2 linked regions of the Homo sapiens genome follow. The protein of the gene in region 1 interacts with the protein of each later gene in a biochemical or structural test. Each region holds a gene or a part of one and is shown on either strand. Other genes may lie near its edges.

The links. Proteins that work in one complex are often made in the same cells at the same time.
Region 2: the proteins of ATP2B4 (region 1) and PPP1R9B interact in a test that uses a peptide from one of them, tested with the Homo sapiens proteins (one large-scale study listed by IntAct).

The regions. Positions count from the first base shown.
Region 1 is NC_000001.11:203,629,578-203,633,681, forward strand, and holds part of ATP2B4 (plasma membrane calcium-transporting ATPase 4), read left to right. Parts: intron 1-4,104. UniProt on the Homo sapiens protein: Calcium/calmodulin-regulated and magnesium-dependent enzyme that catalyzes the hydrolysis of ATP coupled with the transport of calcium out of the cell. By regulating sperm cell calcium homeostasis, may play a role in sperm motility.
Region 2 is NC_000017.11:50,137,178-50,140,677, reverse strand, and holds part of PPP1R9B (neurabin-2), read left to right. Parts: intron 1-449; coding exon 450-585; intron 586-1,096; coding exon 1,097-1,249; intron 1,250-1,361; coding exon 1,362-1,415; intron 1,416-3,500. UniProt on the Homo sapiens protein: Seems to act as a scaffold protein in multiple signaling pathways. Modulates excitatory synaptic transmission and dendritic spine morphology. Binds to actin filaments (F-actin) and shows cross-linking activity. Binds along the sides of the F-actin.

The DNA.
Region 1 (4,104 bases):
CAGGATTGACTGCGCAACCCTGCGGCCCCTGTGCTCTCCGCGGCCTCTGCGACCCCGCCCCGCCAGCCTCTCCGCCGCTGGGCTCCACCCTCCCGGGCTCTGCTGTAGTCTGAGAACTCCGTGGAGAATGCGAACCGAGCGGCGAACGGAGGCTTCCTGCCTCCCAGGTTGTGCCGAGCCTCAGACCCTTCTCCCTTCCATTTACCACCAAGTCTCTAGATTCAAGGTCAAGTCAAAGGAGCACAGCCCGTCTTACCCCTGGGACTCCCAGCGCCCAGCACGGAGCCTGGGATGTTAGAGCGCTGGGTCAAGGCATGTTGAGAGAAGCACGGGCAGTTTGGGGGCCTTGGAATCAGCCTGACGCCAGCGAGTTCCTAACCCGCCGTCTGGCCTCCAGTTTCCCCTCTGCACAATGGAAAGCCTGCTCTCCACGGTAGAGGTGACAGGGCGTGGCTAGGCAGATTTGTCACACTGCTGTGGTCTTTGTCAGAAGAAAATCAAAATGAGAGGGCCCAGTTAGGGGCAGAAGGAGAGCAGTTAGAATTTGCCGAAGGTGTGGGGGCTGGAAGAGGTAAGGTGATGTGTAGGGGCTGGATGTCCTGGGCCAGGATATCGGGAGGCTTTACTCTTCCCCACTCCCACTAACCGGAGGTCCCGAGAGGAACGGGGTCTGGGCTGCTCCCTGCCACCTGTCAGCAGGTCAAGCCTTCCACCGGAAACTGCCCCTTATTCAAGAATTTAGCTTCTCTCAAAAACTCCGAAACCCCTTTTCTCTCTCTCTCTCTCTCTCTCTTTTTTTTTTTTTTTTTTCAATGCTCCTGGCCTTGGACCCAGCACCCAAAGACATGGATTAGCCCTATCCACTAGGACAGAGCATTGCAGACCCACTAAGCCTTGGAGAGAGAAAAGGATCTTGTTCATTCTTAGTCCCCAGAATGACCAAGACAAACCCCGTTAGCCAAACCCCTAAAAAACTGTTTGGCTTAGGTTAGATTAGCTCCAAGTGTTTGACCTTGAAGGGGAACACCCCACCCAGAGTCTTAACTATCCTTCTCTGGAAGGATTCTTCAGGCAATCTGAATTCTTCCCCCGAAGGGCGCCCCTCAGACAAGGCTCCCTACCCAGCCCAGTTCCCTGCTTCTCAGATAAGCATTGATTCCTGTCATCCCAGTGGGTATTTGGTGGGTAGGGGTGAGAAGGAAAGAGGGATGAGAAAAGCAAGGCCTCTGCCTTGTCAGACTGGGATGACAACCTTTCTCCACTCATGTCCCCTTTTCTGCAGGTCATAGGATTAGAGCAGGCCCTGGGGCTGGAGTCCAAAATGCTTGTGTGGAATGTTTTGCCCTTGGCTTCCTCTGCCAGTATCTCTCCTTGTGTCCTCTTTCCTCTTTCCCTTGTGTGAGCCATTCTTGTTCCACTGACTTATTTCCTCTGTACATGTTAAAACAGAAATGACAGGGACTTTCTATTTCTGCCTCTACCTTAAGCCAGTCCTCTGTGTTCAGCCTACATGAACTTGAGTTGAGGAGGGAAACCAGGCAGGATCTAGTGAGGACCAGAGCCAAGGGCTCTGGGTCAGGGAAGAGGCTTGAGAGGCAGTCTATGTGTGAAGGATAGTGGAGAGGCCAAAGGAAAGGAAAGGATTGAGAACATAGGTGCCAAGGGGCAGAGCCCCCATTTCTACCTTTCCTCACCCCAGTTCCTCTCTGCCTAAGATCCTCAGCCTCATTACTCACCTCTGCTCTAGTTTCCCAAGTTTCATGCACAAATCCCTGGGACAACTCAGGGAAGATGAACTGGGATGGGATTACTAAGACCCCCTTCCTCTTGCCTTTCTGCCACTTCACTTGGGGTGTGGCAAAGGGAGTTTGGAGCAGTGCGTTTATTGGTAGGAAGGTCAGGGACTCTCAGCTAGGTTCAAGGAAAGTCTTAGCTTAGAACACCTCATGGCAAGGTCTACCTAGGTTGCGAAATCAATGCCAGGAATACAAACAAGTAGTATACCCTCAATACTAACAGCCCATCTAACATCCCAGGCTCCGTGCTGGGCGCTGGGAGTCCCAGGGGTAAGACGGGCTGTTAGTATTGAGCCCGGGAAGTTAGCAATATCTAACAAAGCTACGTACACATTTACCCAGCAATCCTACGTCTAGGAATTTATCCAGAAGGTGCTCATTCACAAATATGGAAAGCTACGTACAAGGTGATTTTTGTTTGTTTGTTTGTTTGTTTTTTGAGACAGAGTCTCGCTCTGTCGCCCAGGCTGGAGTGCAGCGGCGCGATCTCAGCTCACTGTAAGCTCTGCCTTCCGGGTTCAAGCAATTCTCCTGTCTCAGCCTCGTGAGTAGCTGGGATTACAAGTGCTAGCCACCACACCGGCTAATTTTTTGTATTTTAATAGAGATGGGGTTTCACCGTGTTGCCCAGGCTGGTCTCAAACTCCTGAGCTCAGGCAATCTACCTGCCTGAGCTGGGATTATAGGTGTGAGCCACCAAGCCCAGCCACAAGGTGGTTTTTAAAGGCATATTTACAATAGGAAATCATTGGAAACTATCCAAATGCCCATTCTTTAAAAAATGGTTAAACAAACAATGGTACAGTCCATACAATAGAATCCTAGGTAGCCAAAAAGAAAAAAAAAAGAATGACTAGGAGCCCTGTGAACTTATATGACATGATTGTTAGGATATATTATTAAGTGAAAAAACCAAGACATAGTACAGTATATAGTATGCCACCTTTGGGATAAGAAAGCAGGAGAAGTAAGAAATTTTTTTTTTTTTGAGACAGAGTCTCGCTCTGTTGCCCAGGCTGGAGTGCGGTGGTGGGATCTCGGCTCACTGCAAGCTCTGCCGCCCGGGTTCACGCCATTCTCCTGCCTTATCTTCCTGAGTAGCTGGGACTACAGGCGCCTGCCACCACGCCCGGCTAATTTTTTGTATTTTTAGTAGAGACAGGGTTTCACCATGTTAGCCAGGATGGTTTCGATCTCCCGACCTCATGATCCGCCCACCTCAGCCTCCCAAAGTGCTGGGATTACAGGCGTGAGCCACCACGCCTGGCCTAATTTAAGTACTTTTTAACCTTCATTCCCTGATTCTATATTCATATTTTAAGTAAAAAAAAAAAAAAAAACCACCTACAAAGAAATCTTGACCTTTACTTTGTAGACATGTTATTGGTTGTGGTATTTGTGTCATAAATTGGAAACTGTTTCGTTTATTGTATGATAGATGAAATGAGTAACTATGGTGATATTTCTGGAAATCAGGGTCTCACTATGGAAAAAGAGAGATATAAGTATGGAATGGGGGAAGGGGAAAAAGAATCTTTCGGGGTTTTTTTGTATATCTTGTGGGTCTGTCCACTGAAAGGACTGTGGAAAGGAACACACCTAGTACCTGGATTTTTATTTCTAAGTACAACTTCCCACGGGGGAGGTTGTAAGGAACAGTGCTCCTTGAAAAAATGACTAATTTCAAGTCTGAGACTGGGAAAGTATAAGTGAACTGTGTTGTGCCAGAAACTAGAGCATGCTCATGTCATGACATGTTGTCACAGGAGCTGGCTTAAAGGGTCTCCCGCCAACCAGAGGTGAAACACATTAAGCATTCCAAAGGATAATGGTAATAGATTGTAACACATTGAATATTAAAAATTCCTTGAGTCTATTTTGACAGTTGACATGGACAGGGAGGAGCAGGGAGGGAAAACTCTGAACAGAAATGCCAACGAGGCCAGACACAAGGCCTCACTCTGTAATCCTACCACACTGGGAGGCCAGGGCAGGAGGATCGCTGGAGCCCAGGCGTTTGAGGCTCCCATGAGCTCTGATCATGACACTGCACTCTAGAATGGGTGATAAAGCAAGACTCAGTCTCAAAAAATTAAAAAGTAAATGCCAGTTGGGCGCAGTGGCTCATACCTGTAATCCCAGCACTTTGGGAAGCCCAGGCAGGTGGATTACTTGAGGTCAGGAGTTTGAGACCAGCCTGGCCAACATGGTGAAACCCTGTCTCTACTAAAAATATAAAAATTAGCCGGAAATCGATTGAACTCAGGAGGCAGAGGTTGCAGTAAGCCAAGATTGTGCCACTGCACTT
Region 2 (3,500 bases), on another chromosome or scaffold:
CTATTTCCTCTCCATCCTAATCTCCAGTTGCCATCATCCCGCCCCTTCCTGAAGCTCAGGGGCTTGGAGCATACCCAAGAAACACCTCCGCAGCCCATCCCTGCTGGGAGGGTCATCTTCACCTTTCCCTGCCTCATTTTCTCCCCTGTGGCAGGGGAAGAGCCTCCTCAGTGCATGTCCCCTGCAGCACAGCCTAGAGGTGGGCTGACATTCTCCCTCCCGCAATACTGGCCAGAGGGGTGAATGGGCCTTCCTGCCTCCCTTGGGAAGGAAACCTGATAAGGGCCCTCATTCCCCCATTCATTATTAACACTGCAGCCTTCGGACTCAGCCCTCTCATCTCTCCTCCCCTGGGAGGGCCTGAGTTTGGAGAGGGGAGCATCAGCAGGGAGGATGATGCATTACCTGGCTGAGGACAGAGGCAGCGGATGATGCCGGTGCCCCTGCAGGTTTATGATTGGCCGGGAGCGGCCGGGAGAGCAGAGCGAAGTGGCCCAGCTAATTCAGCAGACTTTGGAACAGGAGCGATGGCAGCGGGAGATGATGGAGCAGAGATACGCCCAGTATGGGGAGGATGACGAGGAGGTAGGGAGTCCCTGCCTGGCTGGCCGCGTGGTCGCCCCCTGGTGGCTAGATGAAGCATTACAGTCATCTGCCTCTACTGCTTCCCCTGCCCTAGTAAAAAGCCCACAGTGCCATTCCCTGTCCTCCAGTCACACTCTTTGTCTTCAGAGGCCGGACAAGGAATACACAGTCCTCTCAAAGAGCCCCCAGTCTGCGGGGAGAGCATAGCCCCTAATCTTGGGGGACCTAATCTGAAAGGGAGATAGATCCAGAAGGGGAAAGATAGTACAGGCTGTTTCTTCAGAGACCCAGGCTGATGAGGAACTGACCCCCTCTGTCATCAGGGGACTACCAGGCTGTTGGGGGAAGACATAAACCGTGTCTCTGGTCCAGCCTCAGGCTGAAGTGGGAGGCATGAACCACATTCCTGGGTAGCTCTCTGTCTGGCATGGGCAACTGGTCCCAGCCCTGGTCATCAGGGCTGAGGGCAGCTGGGTGGGGTGGGCCCACAGTCTCCGGTCTCCCTTCGCAGACGGGAGAGTATGCCACTGACGAGGATGAGGAGCTGAGCCCCACGTTCCCGGGTGGTGAGATGGCCATCGAGGTGTTTGAGCTAGCGGAGAACGAGGATGCACTGTCCCCTGTGGACATGGAGCCCGAGAAGCTGGTGCACAAGTTCAAGGAGGTGGGAGGAGGGGCTCCCTGGAGTGGTGGAGGGAAAGGCAGGCAGGTCTCCTGCCCTTGGCACTGCCTGCCCCACCCTGCTGGAGCTGAGTGCCTGCCCCTCTGCCCAACAGCTCCAGATCAAGCATGCGGTCACTGAGGCAGAGATCCAGCAGCTGAAAAGAAAGGTAAGGGTGCGTATGTGTGTGCTTTTGCGTGCGTGCATGTGTGTGTTGAGGAGCAGGGTCCCCCTACCCTCACACCTGCACATGCTGACACTTAGGCACAGGTACCCACAGAACAAGCTGCTCTAAAGCAAGATGATATGATAGATACGATATTAAGAGCTTAAGCTCTGGATCCATCTGCTCCAGCATCACTTGCTTCTCTGTGCCTCAGCCTCCTCATCTATAAAATGAGGTCGTAATAGCACCAACACCACAGGATCGTTGTGGGATTAAATGAGATAACACACGTCAAGTCTTTAGCACAATGTGTGACATAATAGGAGCTCAATAAAAAGTCAAAGTAGGCTGAGCGCAGTGGCTCATGCCTGTAATCTCAGCACTTTGGGAGGCCAAGGCAGACTGCTTCAGCCAGGAGTTAGAGACCAGCCTGGGCAACATGGCGAAAACCTATCTCTACAAACAATACAAAAATTAGCCAGGTGTGGTAGCGCACACCAGTGATCCCAGCTACTTGGGTGGCTGAGGTGGGACGATCATTTGGGCCAGGGTAGGTCGAGGCTGCAGTGAGCCGTGATTGTGCCACTGCACTCCACTCCAGCCTGAGTAACAGAATGAGACCATGTGTCAAAAGAAAAAAAAGTCAGTATATTAGCTGTGATACCGAAGCATGCTAAGTTCTGCTCTAGGTGTCTCTATGTTTGTGCTGTCCCACATATGTCTGCTATATATAGGCCCATTGATAAGTACAGACCACCCAGAAGTACACACACTGACACAGCAGCCTGGCCCCAGGCACATAGTACCCACAGACCCCCTCACCCAGACACATAGAGACACCCACTCTACACAGACACAGTCACAGAGACAATGGACCTGTGCTTCACATTACACTCGAGGCTATCAGCCTGGATATGCAGACCCACTCTGCACCCATCTGCTCTGAAACACACAGGCATGGCCATCGATCAGACCACCTGGTCTAGGAAGAGTGTCACAGGGCATGCATATTCTCATCTGGGCAAGTAACACAGAGGTGCTGATGCCGACCCCAGATGGAGACACGTGGCACACACACACACACACACACACACACACACACACACACACACGTAGTATACACAGATGCTTACACAAGCATGTCAGGTGCCAGCACCCTCACAGGCATGCAGATATACAGACTTCATATTAAAAGTCTGTATGGGGCCTCTGCTGGGACCTAGACTATAGGAGTCCCAGTACCTATGGGGCTTCTGCCGTGGTGGGGAGAGACAGATCTATAGGGGTCTTGCAGACATGGGAGTGTGTGTACCCTCCCACATGGGGGTATGCAGGAGAGGAGGCCAGGGTTTGGATGGCTGGGGCAGAAGCAGGGGCATTCCTGGCAGGGAGAGGAGCTCCATGGAGCTTGGAGTCTGGCTTTGAGGGGAGGCCAGTCAGGAGGTGGCAGCATGCCTGTCGGGGAGAGGTGGAGGCAGGGCTGGACTGCCAGGATGGGCTCTGGCTTGCAGTATCCTGCCTCCCCTCTAAAGACTCTGGCCTTGGTCCTACAGATAGCATGGGGTATGTGGCCATTGGGATTTTTCGGAAAGCCACTGCCTACAAAGTGGGAGGGCATGAAAGTGGGCAGTGCTGGGAGGCAGGCAAACTGGTTAGGGGCCCAGACAGTGTCCTGGCAGGGGTAGGCCAGGACTGCTCAGAGTATAGGCAGAGGGTCTGGAAAGGAAGGGTAGGTGAGCGCTGCATTTCCGGGGTCAGAGTGACAGGCCATGTTCCTGAGGTGTATGCAGAGTATGAAAGGGAGGGGCACGCCAAAGGTCTGTTAGTGCATTCTACTTACAGACATCCTCTGGGTACCTTCTAGATGTCCAGTATTGTTCTCATCACCATGATGGGCAAAGCCATAGTTGATCGTTGTTCTTGTGCATCTGCAAACCAGTGACTGTGTCATCATCACACGCTGGCATGGGGCTCTGTAGGAGAGAACAGGCTTACTGAGCTGCTAAAGCAGGAGGAACCTGATTCGGGTGGAGGTGGGAGTAGGGCTGTGCTGTTGGAGGGAGCTGTGGGGGCTTTTTTGGAGAAGTG